Linked DNA regions of Homo sapiens. The protein of the gene in region 1 purifies or fractionates together with the protein of each later gene. This does not show direct contact. Each region holds a gene or a part of one and is shown in the gene's direction. Other genes may lie near its edges.

What was found.
Region 2: the proteins of CLEC2D (region 1) and LMBR1 purify together in Homo sapiens (affinity purification with mass spectrometry; 2 studies listed by BioGRID and IntAct, with this or other methods). This does not show direct contact.
Region 3: the proteins of CLEC2D (region 1) and POMGNT1 purify together in Homo sapiens (affinity purification with mass spectrometry; 2 studies listed by BioGRID and IntAct, with this or other methods). This does not show direct contact.
Region 4: the proteins of CLEC2D (region 1) and SUSD1 purify together in Homo sapiens (affinity purification with mass spectrometry; 2 studies listed by BioGRID and IntAct, with this or other methods). This does not show direct contact.
Region 5: the proteins of CLEC2D (region 1) and ABCB6 purify together in Homo sapiens (affinity purification with mass spectrometry; 2 studies listed by BioGRID and IntAct, with this or other methods). This does not show direct contact.
Region 6: the proteins of CLEC2D (region 1) and SLC7A3 purify together in Homo sapiens (affinity purification with mass spectrometry; 2 studies listed by BioGRID and IntAct, with this or other methods). This does not show direct contact.
Region 7: the proteins of CLEC2D (region 1) and B3GAT3 purify together in Homo sapiens (co-immunoprecipitation; 2 studies listed by BioGRID and IntAct, with this or other methods). This does not show direct contact.

What each region holds. Positions count from the first base shown.
Region 1 is NC_000012.12:9,693,713-9,696,882, forward strand, and holds part of CLEC2D (C-type lectin domain family 2 member D), read left to right. Parts: intron 1-1,047; coding exon 1,048-1,162; 3' UTR 1,163-3,170. UniProt on the Homo sapiens protein: Receptor for KLRB1 that protects target cells against natural killer cell-mediated lysis. Inhibits osteoclast formation. Inhibits bone resorption. Modulates the release of interferon-gamma. Binds high molecular weight sulfated glycosaminoglycans.
Region 2 is NC_000007.14:156,883,184-156,886,683, reverse strand, and holds part of LMBR1 (limb region 1 protein homolog), read left to right. Parts: intron 1-3,500. UniProt on the Homo sapiens protein: Putative membrane receptor.
Region 3 is NC_000001.11:46,195,635-46,199,822, reverse strand, and holds the start of POMGNT1 (protein O-linked-mannose beta-1,2-N-acetylglucosaminyltransferase 1), read left to right. Parts: upstream 1-1,388; 5' UTR 1,389-1,487; exon of another isoform or gene 1,488-1,772; intron 1,773-1,951; 5' UTR 1,952-2,001; coding exon 2,002-2,121; intron 2,122-2,273; exon of another isoform or gene 2,274-2,461; coding exon of another isoform or gene 2,462-2,515; intron 2,516-2,738; coding exon 2,739-2,853; intron 2,854-2,973; coding exon 2,974-3,092; intron 3,093-3,333; exon of another isoform or gene 3,334-3,522; coding exon of another isoform or gene 3,523-3,621; intron 3,622-3,745; coding exon 3,746-3,811; intron 3,812-3,898; coding exon 3,899-4,012; intron 4,013-4,188. Other genes in the region: TSPAN1 (tetraspanin-1), read right to left, coding at 3,523-3,621. UniProt on the Homo sapiens protein: Participates in O-mannosyl glycosylation by catalyzing the addition of N-acetylglucosamine to O-linked mannose on glycoproteins.
Region 4 is NC_000009.12:112,043,291-112,046,297, reverse strand, and holds part of SUSD1 (sushi domain-containing protein 1 isoform 2 precursor), read left to right. Parts: intron 1-3,007.
Region 5 is NC_000002.12:219,212,616-219,215,958, reverse strand, and holds part of ABCB6 (ATP-binding cassette sub-family B member 6), read left to right. Parts: intron 1-876; coding exon 877-998; intron 999-1,460; coding exon 1,461-1,570; intron 1,571-1,772; coding exon 1,773-1,838; intron 1,839-2,007; coding exon 2,008-2,133; intron 2,134-2,292; coding exon 2,293-2,369; intron 2,370-2,456; coding exon 2,457-2,520; intron 2,521-2,632; coding exon 2,633-2,718; intron 2,719-2,893; coding exon 2,894-2,951; intron 2,952-3,343. UniProt on the Homo sapiens protein: ATP-dependent transporter that catalyzes the transport of a broad-spectrum of porphyrins from the cytoplasm to the extracellular space through the plasma membrane or into the vesicle lumen.
Region 6 is NC_000023.11:70,925,079-70,928,096, reverse strand, and holds the end of SLC7A3 (cationic amino acid transporter 3), read left to right. Parts: intron 1-76; coding exon 77-299; intron 300-473; coding exon 474-613; intron 614-712; coding exon 713-815; intron 816-1,055; coding exon 1,056-1,222; intron 1,223-1,403; coding exon 1,404-1,570; intron 1,571-1,918; coding exon 1,919-2,027; intron 2,028-2,153; coding exon 2,154-2,284; 3' UTR 2,285-2,518; downstream 2,519-3,018. UniProt on the Homo sapiens protein: Uniporter that mediates the uptake of cationic L-amino acids such as L-arginine, L-lysine and L-ornithine. The transport is sodium ions- and pH-independent, moderately trans-stimulated and is mediated by passive diffusion.
Region 7 is NC_000011.10:62,614,796-62,618,986, reverse strand, and holds the end of B3GAT3 (galactosylgalactosylxylosylprotein 3-beta-glucuronosyltransferase 3), read left to right. Parts: intron 1-1,639; coding exon 1,640-2,000; intron 2,001-2,190; coding exon 2,191-2,481; intron 2,482-2,746; coding exon of another isoform or gene 2,747-2,801; exon of another isoform or gene 2,802-3,187; coding exon 3,188-3,286; 3' UTR 3,287-3,691; downstream 3,692-4,191. Other genes in the region: ROM1 (rod outer segment membrane protein 1), read right to left, coding at 4,148-4,191. UniProt on the Homo sapiens protein: Glycosaminoglycans biosynthesis. Involved in forming the linkage tetrasaccharide present in heparan sulfate and chondroitin sulfate.

The sequences.
Region 1 (3,170 bases):
CTGCTTCATAAATATCTAGAATTAACTTTTATTTCTTATTTTACAATACGGAAGTAGTAAATTTTCTCTACCTAATTCTTAAAATGGTTTTTTGTTTGTTTGTATTTTTGAGAGACAGGGTCTTACTCTGTTACCCAGGCTGGAGTGCAGTAGTACCATCGTGGCTCACTGCAGCCTTGACTTCCCTGGCTCAAGTGAGCCTCCCATCTCAGCCTCCTGAGTAGCTGGGACTACAGGTGTGTGCCACCTTGCTTGGCTTTTTTTTTTTTTTTTTTTTTTTTTTCAGCGATGGGGTCTCACTATGTTGCCTGGGCTGATCTTGAACTCCTGAGCTCAAGCAATCCTCCCACCTCGGCCTCCCAAAATGTTGGAATTACAGGTGTGAGCCACCATGCCTGGCCTCTCAAAATATTTTAAGGATCAAATATATTATTAACTAACCAGTTTTTGGAAACTGCTCATCACTTAAAGAAATGTAAAATATTATATGATTAAGGTCTAACAAGTTTCAACAATTAGCAAATTATATCATAGATGATAGTGATTCCAATGAGCAAAGAGGAAAAATTTATAATCCAAATGCTGACCTAAAATATCTGTGCCAAGCCATCTAAACTCAGCTAAATAGCACTGCAGTTTCAGTACTAAAACCACCAGGGAAGTAGGAGGAATAAAATCAAGCATGGTTTTTAGAAATAGCTGCTGAGTCTTCAGTTATTTAAGGAAGCAAAATATTGGGAAACTGTGTAAAGAAAACGTGTCAGACTTCTCCCATCAGCCAGCTAAGGCTTTGGATGTACTTGAAAGAATATTATGCTTACAGACATGAAATAGGTTTGATTCAGGACTTTGCAGTATTCCTATAGTTGATTTATAACATCTCCTGCTAAGCAAAGCCCACTGACTAATTAGTCACCACTACACAAGGAAAAACAGCATTATTTTTAGAGGCTGAATTAATGTTAGTTTTCTCATTTTCTCATCTTCATTCTCTCTGCTGTTGAAGAAATGTTCAGTGGCCAACTGATTCTGCTTCTTCTCTTGCAGGTTTCCTATCCTGGGAGCAGGAGAGTGTGCCTATTTGAATGACAAAGGTGCCAGTAGTGCCAGGCACTACACAGAGAGGAAGTGGATTTGTTCCAAATCAGATATACATGTCTAGATGTTACAGCAAAGCCCCAACTAATCTTTAGAAGCATATTGGAACTGATAACTCCATTTTAAAATGAGCAAAGAATTTATTTCTTATACCAACAGGTATATGAAAATATGCTCAATATCACTAATAACTGGGAAAATACAAATCAAAATCATAGTAAAATATTACCTGTTTTCATGGTGCTAATATTACCTGTTCTCCCACTGCTAATGACATACCCGAGACTGAGTAATTTATAAATAAAAGAGATTTAATTGACTCATAGTTCCACATGGCTGGGGAGGTCTTGCAATCATGACAGAAGGCAAATGGGAAGCAAAGTCATGTCTTATGTGGTGGCAGGCAGGGGGACTTGTGCACAGGAACTCCTATTTATACAACCATCAGATATCTTGAGACAAGAACAGTATGGGGCTCCCTGGTGTGATTCCGTCCTGCGCGGCTGTTCTCTGGAGCAGCATTCATTTATCTTCGTCTGCCTTGTCTCCTACCTAAGTGTGTGTCGCCACCCGATGGAAGATTCGATGGACATGGACATGAGCCCCCTGAGGCCCCAGAACTATCTTTTCAGTTGTGAACTAAAGGCCGACAAAGATGATCACTTTAAGGTGGATAATGATGAAAATGAGACCAGTTATCTTTAAGAACGGTCAGCTCAGGGGCTGGTGCAAAGGATGAACTGCACATTGTTGAAGCAGAGGCCATGAATGACGAAGGCAGTCCAATTAAAGTAACACTGGCAACTTTGAAAATGTCTGTACAGCCAACGGTTTCTCTTGGGGGCTTTGAAATAACACCACCAGTGGACTTAAGGTTGAAGTGTGGTTCAGGGCCAGTGCATATTAGTGGACAGCACTTAGTAGCTGTGAAGGAAGGTGCAGAGTCAGAAGATGAAGAAGAGGAGGATGTGAAACTCTTAAGTATATCTGGAAAGCAGTCTGCCCCTGGAGGTGGGCAGAAAAAAGTAAAACTTGCTGCTGCTGCTGATGATGATGATGATGAAGATGATGATGATGATGATGACGAGGAAGCTGAAGAAAAAGCGCCAGTGAAGAAATCTATACGAGATACTCCAGCCAAAAATGCACAAAAGTCAAATCAGAATGGAAAAGACTCAAAACCATCATCAACACCAAGATCAAAAGGACAAGAATCCTTCAAAAAACAGGAAAAATCTCCTAAAACACCAAAAGGATCTAGTTCTGTAGAAGACATTAAAGCAAAAATGCAAGCAAGTATAGAAAAACGTGGTTCTCTTCCCAAAGTGGAAACCAAGTTCATCAATTATGTGAAGAATTTCTTCTGGATGACTGACCAAGAGGCTATTCAAGATCTCTGGCAGTGGAGGAAGTCTCTTTAAGAAAATAGTTTAAACAATTTGTTAAAAATTTTCCATCTTATTTCATTTCTGTAACAGTTGATATCTGGCTGTCCTTTTTATAGTGCAGAGTGAGAACTTTCCCTACCATGTTTGATAAATGTTGTCCAGGTTCTATTGCCAAGAATGTGTTGTCCAAAATGCCTGTTTAGTTTTTAAAGATGGAACTCCACCCTTTGCTTGGTTTTAAGTATGTATGGGATGCTATGATAGGACATAGTAGTAGCAGTGGTCAGACATGGAAATGGTGGGGAGACAAAAGTATACACGTGAAATAAAACTCAGTATTTTAATAAAGTAAAAAAAAAAAAAAAGGTATGGGGAAAACTGCCCCCATAAAGCAATTGTCTCCACCTGGCCCTGCCCTTTGCATGTGGAGATTATTACAATTCAAGGTGAAATTTGGGTGGAGACACAACCAAACCATATCAGATGGCTATATCAAAAAGACAAGAAATAACAAGCATTGGTGAGAGTGTGGAGAAGACGGAACCCTTGTACACAGTTGGTGGGAACACAGTTTGGTGCAGCCATTATAGAAAACGTCATGGAGGTTCCTAAAGAAATTAAAAAGAGAACTACCATATGAGCCAGCAATCCCTTTTCCAGATATACACCCAAAGGAAATGAAAT
Region 2 (3,500 bases), on another chromosome or scaffold:
TCCAGATAAGCAATATTAAGATAACTGCAGCTCACTCACTGCCAGACCCTAAGTGATCCCCACTCTCCTGTTCCACAAGCCATAACTATAGCTTTGATTGGACAAGAGACTGATTTCAGTAACTTTCTCCTGATAAGAGCACTGAGCATGAACTGGTTCTGGCCAGTTTACAGAGGCTGTGCACTTCAGTGCCTTCATGTCCCTGCTTCGCCATCTGACTACAGGGCCTCATTGTAATCCTTTTAGATGTTAAGTCTCCACCCACAAGTGAATATGGATAAGTATGTAACATACATGTTTATTCAGCCTGCATGTGCATGACCTCCCCCACTTTGTGAATATTCATAGCTCCTCCTATAACCTGTTAAATATATAAACTTGGCCAACCCGTTCAGCATAAATCCCTGTTCTATCCTCCCTTGAAGGTCTGTTTCTGTGCTCTGCGGGAGGATGCTTCCCAGCTATCAGGATTGCCACCTTGTAGGCTGTGACTCTTTACAAAATTATTTTTGAGGCAGAGTGTGGTTCCGTCACTCAGGCTGGAATGCTGTGGCACAAACACGGCTTACTGTAGCCTCTATCTCCCAGGCTCAAGAGATCTTCCTACTTGAAGGAAGTCTTTTTTTTTTTTTTTTTCTTTTTTTGAGGCAGAGTCTCACTCTGTCACCCAGGCTGGAGTGCAGTGGCACTATCTCAGCTCACTGCAACCTCTACCTCCTGGGTTCAAGCAATTCTTGTGCCTCAGCCTCTTGAGTAGCTGGGATTACAGGTGCCACCACCATGCCTGGCTAATTTTATTTATTTATTTATGATATGGAGTCTCTGTCACCCAGCCTGGAGTGCAGTGGCACAATCTCGGCTCACGATAACCTCTGCTTCCCGGGTTCAAGTGATTCTCCTGCCTCAGCCTCCCAGTAGCTGGGATTATAGGTGCCTGCCACCATGCCCGGCTAATGTTTTTGAATTTTTAGTAGAGGCAGGGTTTTACCATGTTGGCCAGGCTAGTCTCAAACTCCTGACCTCAAGTGATCCTCCTGCCTTGGCCTCCCAAAGTGCTGGGATTACAGGTGTGAGTCAATGCGTCTGGCCATTTTTGTATGGACGGGTTATTTCCGTGTTACCCAGACTGGTCTTGAACTCTCCTGGCCTCAAGTAATCCTCCTGCCTCAGCTTCCCAAAGTGCTAGAATTAGAGGTGTGAGCCACCATGCCTGGCCTGGCTGCGCAATCTAAATTCTTCCTTATCCTGGGTATGGCTTAAGCTCCCCTCTTGGCTAGAATATTTTTGGAACCAAGTCTGGGGTTGACTGGGACTTTTTTTTTTTTTTCTTTTACACGGAGTCTCGCTCTGTCACCGAGGCTGGAATGCAGTGGAGCGATCCTGGCTCACTGCAACCTCCGCCTTCCAGATTCCAGTGATTATCCTGCCTCAGCCTCCCAAGTAGCTGGGATTACAGGCGCCTGCCACCATGCCTGGCTAATTTTTGTATTTTTAGTAGAGATGGGGTTTTGCCATGTTGGCCAAGCTGGTCTTGAACTCCTGACCTCAGGTGATCCGCCCCTGCCTCGGCCTCGCAAAGTGCTGGGATTACAGGCATGAGCCACCGTGCCCAGCCAGACTGGGACTTACACAACAGAGATTTTAGAACCTTCCCATTTAGTTGGCTCCTTTTAGGCCAAATGGGAGGTGGGGAGATAATGGGGATAGAAGTATCCTTCATCTACTGCCTCTCTAGATGAGTTTACCTGCTGTTTTCTACTGGTGTCTTGCCCTCAACTCTATGGCTTACCCTTTATGCAGGAGATAAAAAACTTTAGTCCTTCCCACTTGGGAATAGTGGTTGGGCAGAAGGTGGGAACCAATCACCAATCTTGTATGTAAGTTCAGAATGCAGTTATCTTGGAGTCTGTAGTCTTCTGACCTTTGTCATTGCCCTCCAGTGAAAGACCTCCAAGAGCACACCTGTAGTTGGACAAATTGGGCTTATTGCATATTTCAGTGAGTTCCATGGGGAACTGTGGGGTGTTTCAGTAACTTTTCAAATGGGATTTGGGCTTCTACTAGGTAGTTTGGGAAGGGTTTAAGGAAGTGAGGCTTTGATCTGTATGGGGTGCTGTTAGGAAGCTGGAAAAATTCTGTAACTGGATAGCTTAAGAAATCTTTTCTAGAAGGAAAGAAGACTGGAATAAAGCTAAAGCTGTAACTGGTAAAGAAGCAACAGTCATTCCTGTTAGCCAGGATAGAGAGTTGGTCATTTCTGTGATTTGGACAATGTTCATGTTTTTTTTTTTGCTTGTGTTCAGGAGTGATTACAGAGTGGTCTTGTTTAGTCTTTATCCATCATGGTCTTGTCTGATATTGATGTTCTCTGAAATTGTTGATGTTCAGCAGAAGAGTCAGTCATCAAGGCCTAGGTGTGTGCCTTGCTCTGAGTTGTTAGCCAGTTTACAGCAACACCAAGGCCCAGCTGTGATATTACCAGGCCAGCTCCCAGATGTCAGGGGCTGCATTTCTTTTTCTCACGTGGTTGTAAAGTCTTCTAGTGGAATGATGTATTAGAAACAAATCCAATAGCCAACATAAGTTGAAGTGATTTTCTAACATAGAAGAGCAAAAAGGAATGGGATAGAGGTATAGAGGTTTCATTTGTATTTGACTTTTCTAAACTGGGTTAAATCAGCTTCCCCTCTGCGGTAGGCAGCATAATGGCCCCTGAAGTTGGTAATCCATGTGGTAATCCCTGGAGCCTGTGGTGTGTTACTTTACATGGGTAAAGGGATTTTGCAGATGTGAGTATGTTAAAGGAGAATTACCCTGAATTATCCAGGTGGGCTCTATGTGGTCACAGGGTCCTTATAGGAGAGGCAGGAGGGTCAGAGTCAGAGGAGATGTGATGACAGAGGCAGAGTTGGAGTGATGCCCTTTGAGGAAGGAGGAGGGACCATGAGCCAAGGAGTGTGGGCGGCCTCCAGAAGCTAGAAACGTCAAGGAAATGAATTCTTTCCTAGAGTCTCCAGAAGGAAGCAACCTTGCTCACGCCTTGATTTTAGCCCAGTGAAACTCAATAAATTTGTGTTGTTTTAAGTCACAAAGTTTGTGTAATTTGGTTACAGCAGCCATAGGAGATTCCTACTCCTTCATCAGGAGGCTTTGACTTTCACTGCTGTCCCTGTATATCTTACCACTCCATAGTTGTGTACTTGAGGTTAAAGGAAACTGGGACATTCTAATTACATTTGAGATAATTTTTCATGTCTTCCTATTCTGTCCTCCTTTTTTTTTTCTGAGATGGAGTCTTGCTCTGTTGCCCAGGCTGGAGTGCAGTGACATGATCTTGGCTCACTGCAGCCTCCGCCTCCCGAGTTCAAGCAATTCTCCTGCCTCAGCCTCCCAAGTAGCTGGGATTACAGGTGTGCACCACCACACCTGGCTAATTTTTGTATTTTCAGTAGAGACAGGTTTCACCTGTTGGCCAGGGTGGTCTTGAACTCCAGACCTCA
Region 3 (4,188 bases), on another chromosome or scaffold:
AATCATGTATTTCTTTAACTCCTAAGACAAGTACTGTTAACATTTCATTTTGGGGGATATTACCCCACCATTCAGGAAGCAGATGGAATACAGAAAGCTCAAAAAAATCTAACTGGTCTTCTGGCTTCCTCTGTCTGCTTCCAACCCATTCTCCACAAAAAAAGTAAAGGTTCTCTTAAAACAGAAATTGGATTATATTGCTCCCCTGCCTAAAACTGTTCTATGGCTATCCACTTCAAACAAGCATCAACATCACCTAGAAACTTCTCAGGAATGCAAAATCCCACCCTGCCCCAGACCACTGAATCTAAAACTCTAGGGATGGGGCCCAGCACCTCTGTTTTAAGAAGTCATCCAGGTGATTCTGACGCAAGCTAAAGTTTGAGAACCATTGTGTTAAGCTAACTGCTTTCTATGTATGATGTTATTTAAACCTGGCAATTCTTATGTATTGTTGCCAGCAGAGTGCAGTGGTTAAGAGCAGAATCTGGAGCTAGGCTGAGTTTCAATTCCACCTCTCCTAGCTTTGTGATATTAGGTCTTATTTCTTTATCTGCGACAGGGATAGTAATAGCGCCTATAGCCAGCACGGTGGCTCACTGCCCATAATCCCAGCACTTTGGGAGGCCAAGGCGGGCGGATCACTTGAGGTCAGAAGTTCAAGACCAGCCTGGCCAACATGGTGAAACCCCGTCTCTACTAAAAATATAAAAATTAGCTGGGTGTGGTGGCGCACGACCGTAGTCCCAGCTACTCAGGAGGCTGAGGCAGGAGAATCGCTTGAACCCAGAAGGCGGAGGTTGCAGCGAGCCGAGATGGTGCCACTGCACTCCAGCCTGGGCGACAGAGCGAGACTCCGTCTCAATTAAAAAAAAAACAATAATAATGATAATAGCGCCTACCTCATGGGGTTGTTGTGGAATTAAACATCATCAGTAAGGTGCTTAGAACAGTGACAGAACCTGGATTTTAATCTCCCTTGGCCTCCAATAGCTGTGCATGCCCCAGGACTAGGTAACGGCCTTGCCCAGGACGGGTATGGGGCGGGTGGTGTGTGCCCTGTGTCCAAGGGTTGCAGCCCCTCTGACCCTGGCGTGCCCTGTGATCTGGTCCAAGGTGCTAGGCCTCTGACTGGAGTCGGGCTTGCCATCGGCGGTGCTGGGGAGCGGGCTGCTCTCGTGCAGGCAGCCCCACCAGCCAGCCGGGCTGCGAAGCTGCCTAGCACGGTCTGAGCATTCGCCTTACTCGCTGGCTGCTTACACCCCGACGCCGCTGCCGCCACCGCCGCCGCCGCCGCCGCCGCCCTAAGCACCGCCCGTCGCCCTCTCACCCCGCGGCAGCGGCGGCGGCGGCGGCGGCGGAAGCGGGGGGGCGGGCCAGGCCGGGGCGGGGCCGCAAGCGGCATGGAGGAGGCGGAGGCCGCGGCGAGCCGGGCCGAGCAGTGAGGGCCCTAGCGGGGCCCGAGCGGGGCCCGGGGCCCCTAAGCCGTGAGTGCCTCCGCGTGGGTGTCCGGAACGGGTAGCGCTGCCGGTGCAGGTCTCCTGAGCCCTCGGGCGGCTCCGGGCCCTGGGAGGAGGAGAGAAGCTGGGGCAGATAGGATGGGACGAGGGTTGAAGACTGGGGCAGGAGAGGTCGCTCTTTGCTCACCACAGGCTTGGGAAGGCCTGGAACTTGGTCCTTGTAGGGGCTAACGAACTTTGAGCCGATTATTTGGCCTCCACCCTTGGACAGCCTTGATTCAGAGAGTTACTCCAGTCTCAGGGAATTTCCAGGTGATCCAACCCCACTGAAGGGTTTCCTGCCAGCCCAGAGAAGTTGAGCCACTTTCCCCATGTCACACAGTATGGGTGCTTGCAGGGAAGAGTTGCTGGGAGGTCCTCCCTCATCTCCCCAGAAGGCATCAGACTTTGGGAGGAGCATCTTACCCCATGTGGCCCTCTGGTCCCTTCAGATTCCTGAAGTCATGGGCTGGCCAGGACATTGGTGACCCGCCAATCCGGTATGGACGACTGGAAGCCCAGCCCCCTCATCAAGCCCTTTGGGGCTCGGAAGAAGCGGAGCTGGTACCTTACCTGGAAGTATAAACTGACAAACCAGCGGGCCCTGCGGAGATTCTGTCAGGTATAGAGATGTCCCAAACCCTCCCCACCGAGCGCTCCCTCCCAGCTTCCTCCCCACCTAAATCAGGCACTGGGACCCCTGTTGGCCAGCCCCAGTGGGAAAGGGGCAGCAGGTTCCTAGAGGGGAGACCTCTATGTGTCATGTCCCTATAGGTAATGATTTGAACCCAAAGTTCTGGAATCGGAACCCAAGTACAACTTCTAAGCTTCTGACGGAAGCCTGAAGTCTGATCAGGCTGGCTTTGCAGAGAGGCACACCCCTGTGAGGCAGTTAGGGCCAGGACCCAGGTCTGATCCCCCGCTTGGGTCCCTGGGCCTGGCTCCATCTCTAGAAACCAACAATGGAGGGGACCAAGGAAATCAAGGTCTCAAATAGAAGAATACAGGAGCACTGGGTAGGGAGGGCCCTAATGGAGGGGGAAGTGTCAGGGGAGGTTCCCTGGGGAAAGTGGCTGTGAAACTAGGCCCTGGTCAGGGGAGTAGAGCTAGGCAGACAGAGGAAGGGACAGGACCCAGTTTCTCTGGATGTCTTCACTGCAGCCAGGGCCCTCCTTTCAGAAAGACCCTCTAGGATCTGAAGGAGGTGCTCCTCTTAATCATCCCTACCCCTCCCCTCAGACAGGGGCCGTGCTTTTCCTGCTGGTGACTGTCATTGTCAATATCAAGTTGATCCTGGACACTCGGCGAGCCATCAGTGAAGCCAATGAAGACCCAGAGCCAGAGCAAGACTATGGTAGGGCTAGGCTAAGGATGGGGTAGGGGGCCTTGGATCTCACAGCTGGAGTGGCAGGCAGACCCTAAGCGGTGAGACTCTGCTGAGGAGACTATCTCCATGACCTGTTGTACCCCACAGATGAGGCCCTAGGCCGCCTGGAGCCCCCACGGCGCAGAGGCAGTGGTCCCCGGCGGGTCCTGGACGTAGAGGTGTATTCAAGTCGCAGCAAAGTATATGTGGCAGTGGATGGCACCACGGTCAGTGGGCCAGGGTCTGGTGTACAGTCACTCTATTCTGCTCAGGGCATGGTCCACTGGCAGCAGGGTCTACTGCCTAAGTGGGAACTGCAACTCTGCCAGTTTCTAGCTGTGTGACTTTGGAGTCCTCGATTCCTTATCTATAGACTGGGACTAATGATTTCTACTTGTCAGGATTCAATGAAAAGTTTGTGAAGTGTCTTGTATGTAGTGGGATCTCAAAAGTAATCATTCATAATAGTAGGCAGTCAATTCATTGATTTATTTTATAACCATCCCCTGGTCCTTTCTTTGGCCTCAGCCTTGTGCTGGGCACTGGGGACCTGAAAGTAATCAGACCTGGCCCTACCTTGAGGGGTTCAGTGTGGTGGAGGATTGTGATACTTCCAGGATGAAGCAGAGACAGCAGAGGCTCTAAGAGCCATGAAAGTCATGGAGGGGAGGGTTGTAGAAAGACGTGATCTCTTCTGATGGGAGTGCTATAGAGGCTTTCTGGAAGAGGTGGCCTTCGAGCTGAGTTGGAAAAGAACTGTGTGAACAGAAACATAGGCAGGAGGTGATGTTTCAAGCAGCTGGTGTTTTAAGTACCCCTAAGACAGAGACACCTTGAATGCCAGAGTGAAAAGCTGGACTTTGTCTCTGCCACTGTGTAGGTGCTGGAGGATGAGGCCCGGGAGCAGGGCCGGGGCATCCATGTCATTGTCCTCAACCAGGCCACGGTGAGTTTCTAGGGGTGGGTGACCCAGAGGGCTGGAGCTGGGCTCTTGCTGATGACACCAACTCACCAGAAGTATATCCCCTGCCAGGGCCACGTGATGGCAAAACGTGTGTTTGACACGTACTCACCTCATGAGGATGAGGCCATGGTGCTATTCCTCAACATGGTAGCGCCCGGCCGAGTGCTCATCTGCACTGTCAAGGTCAGTTATTCTGTCCTGACCCTGACCCCTACTCCCTAGCTCCAACCCTGCTTCTAGCCCCGGCTTCTCTGCCCCTCATATAACATAGTGGGAAGATTCTCTGAAGGAAGGTTACTCAGGTTCCAATCTCAGCCTTAACATTTGTATTAATTCAGCAAATAGTTATTGAGCAACAG
Region 4 (3,007 bases), on another chromosome or scaffold:
GTAGGGTAACCAAAGGATGGTGAGGCTATAAAAAATACAATTCAAATTTGCCAGTTGTAAATTTTCTTATTAAGGAATTAATGAGGAAAGTCTCTAAAGAAGCTTGTGTGGCAACACTTGTGAGCACTCTTGATTAGATTGACTCAGATTTTTAGAGTATATATGCAAAGTAGACAAAAAGACATATAACCAGGAACTGATCTACCAGCAAGAATCATTCCTGGAGCCAAACCCAAATTGTGCTATGCAGAATAAATAAAGATCATTTTCCAATACTATGTCTAGAGTAAGGAATAGTTGTGCCCAGGTAGATCCTGCTGGTGGATGGTCAAGTGAAAGTCAGCTTCCTTAACTCCTACTTAGCTTTTGTCCTCTTCGTTTGTGAGGGGATAGTTAGAAGAAAGAAAAGAGCTTGCTACCCTACATAGGTTCAAGTCTTCCAACATGGATGTAGCGTATTCTGGCAGGTTCATACAATTTTCACATGAGATGGATAAACCATTGCAAATGATCTTCAATAAACCTTGAAGAAAATGGAGAGATGTAAGAGGACTAGAGATGAGCAAAGAACAAGGAACTTTGTACAAAGGAAGAACCACCAGAAGTGTAGATGATGGTAACTTGAAGTCAAGGCAAAGCAAGGTCTTCAAGTGATGGCTTGTGTATCCCTGGTAGAAAAAACAGCAGTTCCCGGGAGTCAGGAGCTTTAAGAGCAGATTAGGTCAGATTGCTTTCCATTTCTTCTTGCACAGAGTCAGTAATTGGTCAGGGAAATATGGCACGCATAATAACAATAATGTCCTTGTGGACAATGTGGGGACATGAGAGCTGTATGTGGGCTTAGAAACAAGCTGAATGGCTATGCACAGTTGATATCAACTCATTAACAATTATTGATGAGTTGAAATCAAACCCAAGAATATGCATGATATGGATTTCTGTCCACAGTCATCTTCAGTTCAACATATTCATCAATCAGTGATTAAAATATACAGAGGGTTAAAGTGTAGAGGAAAAAATACACAGAAAAAAACTTGATGTCAGAAGTTGGAAGGAATACTGGGTAGATCGGATGAAATGCCAGTGCAGTAAAGTACCAGCTCCCCCGTTCATCTCCAGAATTGTATTTTCTCTTAAAAACAAAACAAAACAAAACAAATCTAGTTAATTAGTCCACCAAGATGGCATTTAAAAAAATGTTTCTGAGTCATGCACAAAGATGGCATCTTAATGCCTTAATTTGCATTTTTATTACTTGTAAGAGAGCATTTGCTCAAAGTTTTATTGATCATCTGTAATCATGTTTTTCATGTGATTTACCTTTTCGTAGAATTTTCTCATTTCGCTATTGAGGTATGTCTTTATTAATCTGTAACACTCTCTGTATGTTAACTTCTTGCCCATTATTCTAGATATTTTATCCAGCTTGCCATTTGCCTTTTAATCTTGCTTATGGTAGTTTTTGGTATAAGAAGTGCATGCTTTTTAAAGTGGTTAAATCTCTCATTCTCTTAAGGTTTCTGTGTTAACGAATATGCTTAGAAATTTCTTACCCCCTTTAATATTAGGTAAATATTCACTAACATTTCCTAATCCTTTTAGGTTTCAATTTAAGTCTGTAATCCATCTGGATTTTATTTTGATATATGGTGTAAGCTCTAGTGATCAAAATTATTTGATTCTAAATGGTTAGCCAATTTTCTCAGCACTGGTTATGAAAAATTTATCATTTCCCCAATGATCTGAAACAGTATCAAAACAACAAAAACAATAATAATTAACAATAGCTAACATTTGCTTATTGCTTATTCTGTGCCAGGCACTGTTTCAACCTGTACTAACTCACTGACTTCTCCCACTACCTAGAGGTGGGTAGTATTGCTATCATTCCCATGTTATTACAGCATCCCTCAGTGTGGGGACTGAGACACAGAATGGATGAATAACTTGCACAAAGTCACACAGGCAGTGGTGGTGTTCAGATAAAGACTTGGACATCTGACTCCAGTATTCAAACTTTGAAAGTATTTGATATGCTTGGATTTGTTTCTAGGCTATTTTGTTCCAATGTATTCATTCCTATTCTAATACTGCACTGTTTTACTGTCTTGCAATTCAAGTCACTCTCCTAATATTTTTTCTTTACTAATTCTTCACTTAATCACTGTTTCTCCTTCCATTTTATAATCTAGTTTCTTGGCTGGGCATGGTGGCTCATGCCTATAATTCTAGCACTTTGGGAGGCCAAGATGGGCAGATCGCCTGAGGTCAAGAGTTCGAGACCAGCCTGGCCAACATGGTGAAGCCCTGTCTCTACTAAAATACAAAAACTAGCCGGGCGTGGTGGAGTACACCTGTAGTCCCAGCTACTAGGGAGACTGGGGCAGGAGAATCGCTTGAATCCGGGAGGTGGAGGTTGCAGTGAGCCGAGATCATGCCACTGCACTCCAGCCTGGGTGACAGAGCAAGACTCTGTCTCAAAAAATAATAATAAATAAAAATAAAATAAAACAAAATAAGTAATCTAGCTTCTTAAAGTGTCAAGGCCATTTTTCTTCTATAGACTAAAAGCAACCAAATAATATAAGCCATGTTTTCTAGAAAGGCTCTTGGCAGCATTTTTTGAGAATTAGTAACCGCCCAATGAGTTTTCCTTGCCTGCTGCCTAGACAGAGCTGATTTATCAAGACAGAGGAATTGCAATAAAGAGCTTAATTCACACAGAGCCAACTGTATGGGAGACTGGAGTTTTATTATTACTCAAATCAGTCTCCCTGAAAATTCAGGGATGGGGTTTTTAAGGATTACTTAGTGGGTAGGGGGTAGGGGATGGGGGGGTCAGTGAGTCAGAAGTGCTGATTGGTTGGGTTGGAGATGAAATCACAGAGTCGAAGCTGTCCTCTTGCACTGAGTCAATTTCTGGTTGGGGGCCACAAGATCAGATGAACCAGTTTATGGATCTGGGTGATGCCAGCCGATCCATGGAGTGCAGGGTCTGGAAAATATC
Region 5 (3,343 bases), on another chromosome or scaffold:
CCGGAGAAGCAGGGATAGGGGCCCGTGGGAGGAAGAGAACAGACCCCGCCTGAGAAGCTGCCGCTCCCACCTTGGTGTTTTTTAAAGTATAGGATTATTGTATACATGCTCTCCTAATAACTTAGGTAATGCGGGCAGAGGGCAAATCTCTTTCGAGCTGCACTTACTTTTTCAGAGCTTCCCACTCTGTTTAGTATGTTGGGTTCTGCTCTTTTTTTGAGACAGGGTCACGCTCTGTCACCCAGGCTGGAGTACAGTGGCATAATCTCTGCTCACTGCAACCTCTGCCTCCCGGGTTCAAGCAATTCTCCTGCCTCAGCCTCCTGAGTAGCTGGGATTACAGATGTGCACCAGCATGCCTGGCTAATTATTAGATTTTTTGTAGAAACAGGGTTTCACCATGTTGGCCAGGCTGGCCTGGAACTCCTAGCATCATGTGATCTGCCCACCTAGCATTCCAAAGTGCTGGGATTACAGTTGTGAGCCATTGTGCCCAGCTGGGTTCTGCTTTTTTGCATTTTTACATACATATTATATATGCAGACTCACAGAACTAATATGGCATTGTGGAGGTTTTTCCTAAAACAAATGGTATTGTGACATAGCCATCATTCTCAGAGTTGCTTATTAACAGAACATTATGGAGATATATTTTTCTTCCATGCCTGAAGGTCTCCCTCATTCATTGTAATTGATACAGAGAATTCTGTAGTTTGAGCATGGTTGATTTAGCCACCCACCTCTTGAGGGTAGAATTAATTAAGACTGGTTCCAGTCTGTTGCTTGAAAATAAAACACTACCCTGAAATGCCTAGAGGCAGGGTTGCTGGGTCTAAGCCCCCAGACCTTTCTTATTCACTTGACCTGCCCTCCTAGCTACCTGGTGTTCAATGTCATCCCCACGCTGGCCGACATCATCATTGGCATCATCTACTTCAGCATGTTCTTCAACGCCTGGTTTGGCCTCATTGTGTTCCTGTGCATGAGTCTTTACCTCAGTGAGTGCTGCTGGGAGACACCGTCTCCCTGAACTATCCAGGGACTCCCTTGGCCATGAGCTGTGCCCCCACTCAAGTGACCCACCTATGGGAGGCTGTGGATTGGTGGACTTGAATGGGCTCCTAGTGCTCGTCATGTGATGGGCGGGTCTCTTCTGTCAAATCAAACCTTAACCTAGCTGAGGGGCTGGGGAAGGACATTCTTGTCACGTTAAGTCTGAGCCGTGGACACAGGTCAAGGAAGCCTCGTTTGTGTAACAAGATGCAGCTTGCTTTCATTTACCAAAAGCGTTTTCTACACATGAGACTTTGTGCAGGCTGCAGAGGTGCCTCCCTGTGGAATCTGGGTGTCCGGGCTTGAGCATAGGCTTAGTGTGTACATGGCAGGTAGTGGACATTGACATTTGGTCTCTGCTTTTGGGGATGATGTCCTATTCTGCTCCCCATCCTGTCACTCTCCAGCCCTGACCATTGTGGTCACTGAGTGGAGAACCAAGTTTCGTCGTGCTATGAACACACAGGAGAACGCTACCCGGGCACGAGCAGTGGACTCTCTGCTAAACTTCGAGACGGTAACAGAGGGCCCGGTGGCAGTGGTGTGAGGCGTGGAGATGTGGAGGAGTGTAACCAGGACCACTGGGGCTGACAGAGAGCTGGGGGTGTGATGTTTGTGTGTGATGTTTGAACTCAGGAAGGAGGATTGAGAGTTGGGGGGAATGACCCGAGTGCCATGTGCTGTGCCCATGCCAAATAAATTTGGTTTGAATTCATCAGGTGAAGTATTACAACGCCGAGAGTTACGAAGTGGAACGCTATCGAGAGGCCATCATCAAATATCAGGTGAGGATGCTAGTTTGAGGCCTCCGGAGAATAATGCCCTGGCCTGGTAGAATTTTCAGGGCCAAGAGTGATAGTCGAGTGTTGGGGTAGAAGGGGCCTGGGCCCAGGTTTGGACTCACTGATGGCCATTGTGTATAGGACATTCCTCTTCCTGTGTTATTGCCCTCAGGGTTTGGAGTGGAAGTCGAGCGCTTCACTGGTTTTACTAAATCAGACCCAGAACCTGGTGATTGGGCTCGGGCTCCTCGCCGGCTCCCTGCTTTGCGCATACTTTGTCACTGAGCAGAAGCTACAGGTGAGGCAGGATCTTGGATGAGAGAGTGGGGCACAAGGAAAAGGGGGCCTGAGGCCTGTGTCTGGTCACCAGGCTCTTCGGTAGGAAGTGGGCAGGGTGACACAAGAAGAGCGGCCTGCAGGCCCCCCGTGACATGCTCTGCTTCCTTGATTGCCACAGGTTGGGGACTATGTGCTCTTTGGCACCTACATTATCCAGCTGTACATGCCCCTCAATTGGTTTGGCACCTACTACAGGTAATCTGAGCCCTGGCCCTCACCTGTCCAGGGCACATTATTATTTCCTGGCTACTCAGAGAAGTCCTAACCAGCACCTTTTTGCAGGATGATCCAGACCAACTTCATTGACATGGAGAACATGTTTGACTTGCTGAAAGAGGAGACAGAAGTGAGCGAAGGGAGAGGAGTAGGGTTTGGGGAGGGAGGAGCTGTGTGGTGTTTCTCGTGCTTGGAAAACACAAAGCTGAGAACCTCAGCACACATGGGTGGTGCCCTTCCAGGTGAAGGACCTTCCTGGAGCAGGGCCCCTTCGCTTTCAGAAGGGCCGTATTGAGTTTGAGAACGTGCACTTCAGCTATGCCGATGGGTGAGGCCTTCCTTTTGCTTCCTTTGCTTTTCCGTTCATTTGCACACTGCCTTCCTGCTTCTCAGTGCTCTGAATCCCTGCTTTTGGAAAAGAGCCTGGGCAGGGGAGGGGCAGGGCCTACTAGCAGCTCTGGTGATGGAAGGTGCCTGCTGAGCAACCCCACCTTTCCTTGCAGGCGGGAGACTCTGCAGGACGTGTCTTTCACTGTGATGCCTGGACAGACACTTGCCCTGGTGAGAGGAGACCCAGCCACTTGGCCCAGATGCCTCAAGCTTCCCTCATTCAGTGCCCATGGTAGCTTGTGACCCAGGCTGTGGAGTCAGAGAGCCCAGTCACGATAGGCAACCGGATTGAATGGTGCAGCCTCCATGGACACTGGTGACCTCTTGGAGAGGGAACCTCAAAAGCCAGTGGGCCTCGGCCGGCTGCGGTGGCACATGCCTGTAATCCCAGCACTTTGGGAGGCTTAGGTGGCCAGATCACCTAAGGTTAGGAGTTCAAGACCAGCCTGACCAACATGGTGAAACCCTATCTCTACTAAAAATACAAAAATTAGCCGGGCATGGTGGCGGGTGCCTATAATCCCACTACTAGGGAGGCTGAGGCAAGAGAATCGCTTGAACCT
Region 6 (3,018 bases), on another chromosome or scaffold:
CAGGCTGTATGCAGACTGGGGGTGGTAGAGGAGTGGGCCTGCTTCCCTAATTTAGAACCTTACGCCCTTCCTTCAGGAGAAGAAGCCCAGAATCCCCAGCGTTCCATCCCGATGGGCATTGTGATCTCACTGTCTGTCTGCTTTTTGGCGTATTTTGCTGTCTCTTCTGCACTCACCCTGATGATGCCTTACTACCAGCTTCAGCCTGAGAGCCCTTTGCCTGAGGCATTTCTCTACATTGGATGGGCTCCTGCCCGCTATGTTGTGGCTGTTGGCTCCCTCTGTGCTCTTTCTACCAGGTCAGTATCAAATGTTTGTTTTCTTCTGCTGTCAGAGTCTCAGGTTATAGCATTCAGTACCAGAGAATACCCCTTAAAAGGGCTGTGAGGGGAAAGTGGAGACTCTTTAAACATACAGTCTTGGGAAGAGAGATCCCAGTCAACTCATGCCACCCTGGGCATTCTCCTCTCCAGCCTCCTGGGCTCCATGTTCCCCATGCCTCGGGTGATCTACGCGATGGCAGAGGATGGCCTCCTGTTCCGTGTACTTGCTCGGATCCACACCGGCACACGCACCCCAATCATAGCCACCGTGGTCTCTGGCATTATTGCAGGTAACAGACCCTCTTTCCCCTTCCCTTAGTTGTTTCGCCAACTTCTTTAACTTTGCCACTCCCTTCTCTCATTTCTTGTTTCCTGCCTATTAATTTTAGCATTCATGGCATTCCTCTTCAAACTCACTGATCTTGTGGACCTCATGTCAATTGGGACCCTGCTTGCTTACTCCCTGGTGTCGATTTGTGTTCTCATCCTCAGGTGAGACTCTTCCTCTGCATACTGTGATTTGGATTTTTATTCTTGGATGAGGAATGATGGAGATCTGCTCCTCTTTCCTCCTTCGCCTTCATTATTCCAACTTTCTTTGAGGAATCTGGGTATCTCACCCTGCCAAAAAGAACTTCCCTTAATGGTGATGAGGAAGGTTAAGCTGCCTGGGAGAAGATGATAAAGTGAGTAAAGGTTGTTCTTAATACTGCCATCTTACTTTTGCCTCAGGTATCAACCTGATCAGGAGACAAAGACTGGGGAAGAAGTGGAGTTGCAGGAGGAGGCAATAACTACTGAATCAGAGAAGTTGACCCTATGGGGACTATTTTTCCCACTCAACTCCATCCCCACTCCACTCTCTGGCCAAATTGTCTATGTTTGTTCCTCATTGCTTGGTGAGCAGTGGAATTTTTCTGGGGTGGCTCTGAGATCAGCGTGATTGGGTCGAAGTGTGTGGCATTTGGTGGCTGAGGAAGAACTAGAGAGAGAGCGACTCTCCTTGGAACAGGGTTTCTAATGTCTTAGCATGTTGGTCTTAAGAGTTGGTTTTGATGTCTCTCAACTTGACCTTTGAAGCTGTCCTGCTGACTGCTCTTTGCCTGGTGCTGGCCCAGTGGTCAGTTCCATTGCTTTCTGGAGACCTGCTGTGGACTGCAGTGGTTGTGCTGCTCCTGCTGCTCATTATTGGGATCATTGTGGTCATCTGGAGACAGCCACAGAGTTCCACTCCCCTTCACTTTAAGGTAAATGAACTCTGTCTTTTTTCCTTGCCAGCCCATCTTGGGAGAATAGGCTCCAGATATCTTGAGGTCTAATAAAGTTCATAGATATTCTTTAATTGAACATGAAAGGGAAGATATAGGAGGTACCTAGGCCAAAGACTTCTTCTCTGACCCTCTTTAGTTCCTTTCCAGTTCCATTTACCCAAACTGCATATTCTTGGAGTCTCATGAGGTATGCTAAATGAGCAGCTACTGAAATGCAGAGGACAAGTAAGAGTTGGACTCACCCTTTTCTGGCCTGCATAGGATAGGGATCTCTTTCTAGGTCAACCTGTGGTATGTACAAAGAAGATTTTACTTTGTTTTCAGGTGCCTGCTTTGCCTCTCCTCCCACTAATGAGCATCTTTGTGAATATTTACCTTATGATGCAGATGACAGCTGGTACCTGGGCCCGATTTGGGGTCTGGATGCTGATTGGTAGGTATCCACTTGGGAAGAGTAGGCTTCTTTGGTGTCCTAGCCCAGCTCCTTTCCCTCTTGGTCTCAAGTAGGAAACCTATGAAGCCTTTACACCCCCACCTCACAGCTACCTTTCCCCACTAGGCTTTGCTATCTACTTCGGCTATGGGATCCAGCACAGCCTGGAAGAGATTAAGAGTAACCAACCCTCACGCAAGTCTAGAGCCAAAACTGTAGACCTTGATCCCGGCACTCTCTATGTCCACTCAGTTTGACATCGTCACACCTAAATGCTGTCTGGTCCCCTGCACAATAATGGAGAGTACTCCTGACCCCAGTGACAGCTAGCCCTCCCCTGTGATGGTGGTGGTGGATACTAATACAGTTCTGTACGATGTGAAGGATGTGTCTTTGCTATTTCTTGTCTATTTTAACCCGTCTGCTTCTAAATGATGTCTAGCTGCTTACCAACTTTAAAAAATGATATTAAAAGAAAGTAGAAAAATAAACTGTGTCCTGTTTTTTGCTTGCTAAAGATGTAGAGCCTGACTTTTAAGAGTGAAGAGCCTCAGAGAAGTGTCCTTTGTGTTTTCTTCAGTTACCACAAAAGCATCTGCTGTGCCTGTGGGTGCTTCTTGTTGAATCAGGGTTTGAGGAGGGTGGTGTAAGTAGGTAGCCATCCAGTCCAGTCACACTTAAAGGAATGGTCTTGAGATATGTTTTCCCCTCATTACACTTAAGGTTAGGTTCTGGATAAGTAGACAGCAACACTTGTCTCTGGGATTTGGGGTGGACTCTGATAGCAACACTGACATTGGTTAGGGCCTACACTGAAACTATTGGCTTCTGTTCCACCTCTTCTAGTTGGACCAGTCCCACACTCCTGTAACTGCCTGAGCATCAGAAATTTTGGCTGCGGTGTTTGGCACTGCTGGGAGGAGGGGTGGATAGTCAGGGGGTTTGGTAAGGGACCACATATATTAATATATGGATACTGTTTGCTGCAGAA
Region 7 (4,191 bases), on another chromosome or scaffold:
TCCCGAGATGGAGTCTCACTCTGTCGCCCAGGCTGGAGTGCAATGGCACGATCTCGGCTCACTGCAACCTCCACCTCCCGGATTGAAGCAATTCTCCTGCCTCAGCCCCCCGAGTAGCTGGGGTTACAAGCATGCGCCACCACACCCGGCTAATTTTTTGTATCTTTAGTAGAGATGGGGTTTCACCATGTTGGCCAGGCTGGTCTGGAACTCCTGACTTCGTGTTCCACCTGCTTCGGCCTCTCAAAGTGCTGGGATTACAGGTGTGAGCCACCATGCCTGGCCAGTAATTTTTTGTATTTTACTTTTGTATTTTTTTTTTTTTTGAGATGGAGTCTCGCTCTGTCATCTAGGCTGGGTGCAATGGCGTGATCTTGGCTCACTGCAAGCTCTGCCTCCCGGGTTCACGCCATTCTCCTGCCTCAGCCTCCCAAGTAGCTGGGACTACAGGTGCCCGCCACCACACCCAGCTAATTTTTTATATTTTTAGTAGAGATGGGGTTTCACCGTGTTAGCCAGGATGGTCTCGATCTCCTGACCTCATGATCCACCTGCCTCAGCTTCCCAAAGTGCTGGGATTACAGGTGTGAGCCACCATCCCCAGCTCTTATTTAATCTTTAAAACAACATTGTTATAAAGTACTGTTATTCCCATTTTACAGTTGAGGAAACTGAGGCTTAGGGAGATTGAGCCATTTTCCCAAATTGTCTCACATAATAAGTTACAAAACTGGATTTCAAACCCAGATCTACCTGATCCCAAAGCCTGTGCCCTTAATTTGTTTTTTTTTTTTTTTTTTTTTTTTTTTGAGACAGAGTTTCGCTCTTGTCGCTCAGGCTGGAGTGCAGTGGCACAATCTCGGCTCACTGCAACCTTCGCCTCCCGGGTTCAAGCGATTCTTCTGCCTCAGCCTCCCGAGTAGCTAGGATTACAGGTGACTGCCACCATGCCTGGGTAATTTTTTGTATTTTTAATAGAGACGGGGCTTCGCCATGTTGGGCAGGCTGGTCTCGAACTCCTAACCTCAGGTGATCCGCCCACCTCGGCCTCCTAAAGTGCTGGGATTATAGGCGTGAGCCAACATGCCCGGCCTTTTTTTTTTTTTTTTGAGATGGAGTTTTGCTGTTATCACTGAGGCTGGAGTGAAATGGTGCGATCTCAGCTCACTCCAACCTCCTCCTTCCAGGTTCAAGCGATTCTCCTGCCTCAGCCTCCCAAGTAGCTGAGATTACAGGCATGTGCCACTACACCCAGCAAATTTTTGTATTTTTTTAGTAGAGATGGGGTTTCACCATATTGGCCAGGCTGGTCTGGAACTCCAGACCTCAGGTAATTCACCTGCCTCAGCCTCCCAAAGTGTTATTATAGGTGTGAGCCACCATGCCCGGCCCTGTGCCCTTAATTTATAGTCTCCCACAGCCTGAGCTCTGGAGTTGAGGTGGGTGATGGACATGGACCAGAAGAACAGGGCAGGTGAGTGTTAGCATGAAGTTGACAGGCAAGAAAGAGGGAGTTTAGGCATTGGTTGGGAAGGGCCACAGGAGACGCAGGCAGTGGCCCAGGAGAAGCTGTCTGCCCTGGCTGGAGCAGGCAAATGGTGCCTGCCCCTTTTCCTTGTGCTGCATCTCTCCCCTGCAGGCTGGTACAGAAGGCAGAGCTGGTACGACTGTCCCAGACACTGAGCCTGGTGCCCCGGCTGCATTGGCTGCTGGTGGAGGATGCTGAGGGTCCCACCCCGCTGGTCTCAGGGCTGCTGGCTGCCTCTGGCCTCCTCTTCACACACCTGGTGGTCCTCACGCCCAAAGCCCAGCGGCTTCGGGAGGGCGAGCCTGGCTGGGTTCATCCCCGTGGTGTCGAGCAGCGGAACAAGGCCCTGGACTGGCTCCGGGGCAGAGGGGGTGCTGTGGGTGGGGAGAAGGACCCACCACCACCAGGGACCCAAGGAGTCGTCTACTTTGCTGACGATGACAACACCTACAGCCGGGAGCTGTTTGAGGAGGTGAGCACCAGGATGGGGATGGGCAAGAGACCAGGTGCGGCCAGCTTCATTCGTTACCTTGGTTAGCAGTGTTGCCGTTGGCTGCTGGGTGAGGGGCTGGAAGCAGTGGGGCAGAGTGAGCCAGGTGGCTCTTTCTGCTGCTCCCTTCCCCGGACCACCCCTCTGTTTCTTCTCTCCCGACCTCCGTTAGATGCGCTGGACCCGTGGTGTCTCAGTGTGGCCTGTGGGGCTGGTGGGCGGCCTGCGATTCGAGGGCCCTCAGGTACAGGACGGCCGGGTAGTGGGCTTCCACACAGCATGGGAGCCCAGCAGGCCCTTCCCTGTGGATATGGCTGGATTTGCCGTGGCCCTGCCCTTGCTGTTAGATAAGCCCAATGCCCAATTTGATTCCACCGCTCCCCGGGGCCACCTGGAGAGCAGTCTTCTGAGCCACCTTGTGGATCCCAAGGACCTGGAGCCACGGGCTGCCAACTGCACTCGGGTAAGGGAATGGAGATGGGCATAGAAACCTGGCTCTTGGATGGACAGGTGATGGGGGAGGTACAGTGAGACCCTGGGAATGGGTGGTTTAACCAGGAGGGACTCTCCAGATCTCTGATCAGCCTTGCTGACTCTACTGAAGGGGAAGCTGGGAACTAGCGGGGGAAAGTGGTCTCCTGCCACTCTGCCCCGAGTTCTGGGAACCCATGTGGCACAGAGAGGATGAAGGAATAAGGCCCTGTTTGTTGTTTTTTTTTTTTTTTCAGACAGAGTCTCGCTGTGTCACCCAGGCTGGAGTGCAGTAGCGCAATCTTGGCTTAGCGCAAGCTCCGCCTCCCGGGTTCACACCATTCTCCTGCCTCAGCCTCCCAAGTAGCTGGGACTACAGGCACCCGCTACCACGCCCGGCTAATTTTTTTGTGTTTTTAGTAGTGACGGGGTTTCACGGTGTTAGCCAGGATGGTCTCAATCTCCTGACCTCGTGATCCGCCTTCCTCGGCCTCCCAAAGTGCTGGGGTTACAGGCGTGAGCCACGCGCCCGGCCAAGGCCCGGTTTTAGAGGCACTAAGTCTTCCTCCACCCTGCCCTTTACACTTTGAAGCCTATACTGTATATGTCGATAGGGTTAGAGAATCCATTCCAGGCTCGGGGACCCAGAGGCCTGGCTGCAGCTGGGCCTGGCTCTCACTGCATCCCTCCTGGCACAGGTACTGGTGTGGCATACTCGGACAGAGAAGCCCAAGATGAAGCAGGAGGAGCAGCTGCAGCGGCAGGGCCGGGGCTCAGACCCAGCAATTGAGGTGTGATGGCGGCCCCACCCCAACTACCACCTCTTTTCAGGCACAGACCTTGTGGGACTGGGCCCCAGGCCTGCCCAGGATGTGGTTTTCCAAGTCCTGACCCTTGGAGCCAGAAGTGGCCCCTCTGCCCCTCCAGGCCCAGGGCATGGTCCTGCTGCTTCACCCCTCCCCTAGCCTGCCGTGTGGCACTGCCCACAGGCTGGGGACAAGCAGCCCTTGTGTTGAGTCAGGTTGGCCCTGTCTAGGGTGGAACAGAAGGACAGATGGACCCAGGAGGGAGGGCAGCTGAGTAACTGGGTAACTTATTGGGGCTGGGCATGCACTGGGGGGCTGGAGGAGCTGGGCTGGACCCTTCCCACCTGAGCATGCTGACCCCCTTCCTACCTCCAGAATAAAGAATCTCAACCTGGAGGGGCCTCTTGTTTTCCTTTGCTTCTTACATTGGGTTCTTGCTTTCTGATCCTTACAGATGTGGGCTCCTGTTGCTGCACAGGTCGAGCCAGGGTCCAAACTTTGGAGTCCTAGCTGCTCCATCAGACAGAAATCAGTTCTCCCAGGCCCCCATCCCCTTGACAAGAAAAAGCAATTGCTTCCATCCAAAAACTTTATTGAGTCTATATCAGAATCAGCCTCCAGGCCTTCTCATGTCACTTTCCCATCACTCTGTTCTTTGCTGTTCCCTGGTGGTTCTGACTACAAGGGCTAGGCCCTAGGACATCTGGTTTTCTTTCTTACCCCAGTCCAGCTCGCTGACTATCCTTAGCCCCTCTAATCCTACGATCCCCCCAACCTGGAGCCTTGGTAAGGAGTTGTGAGGTTTTCAGACTTGTCCATCCCTCCCTCTTCCTCACCCCAAGCTCCAGGCCTCTAGGCCTCAGATAGATCCTCCTTGGGAGGTGCTTCTCCTGGTG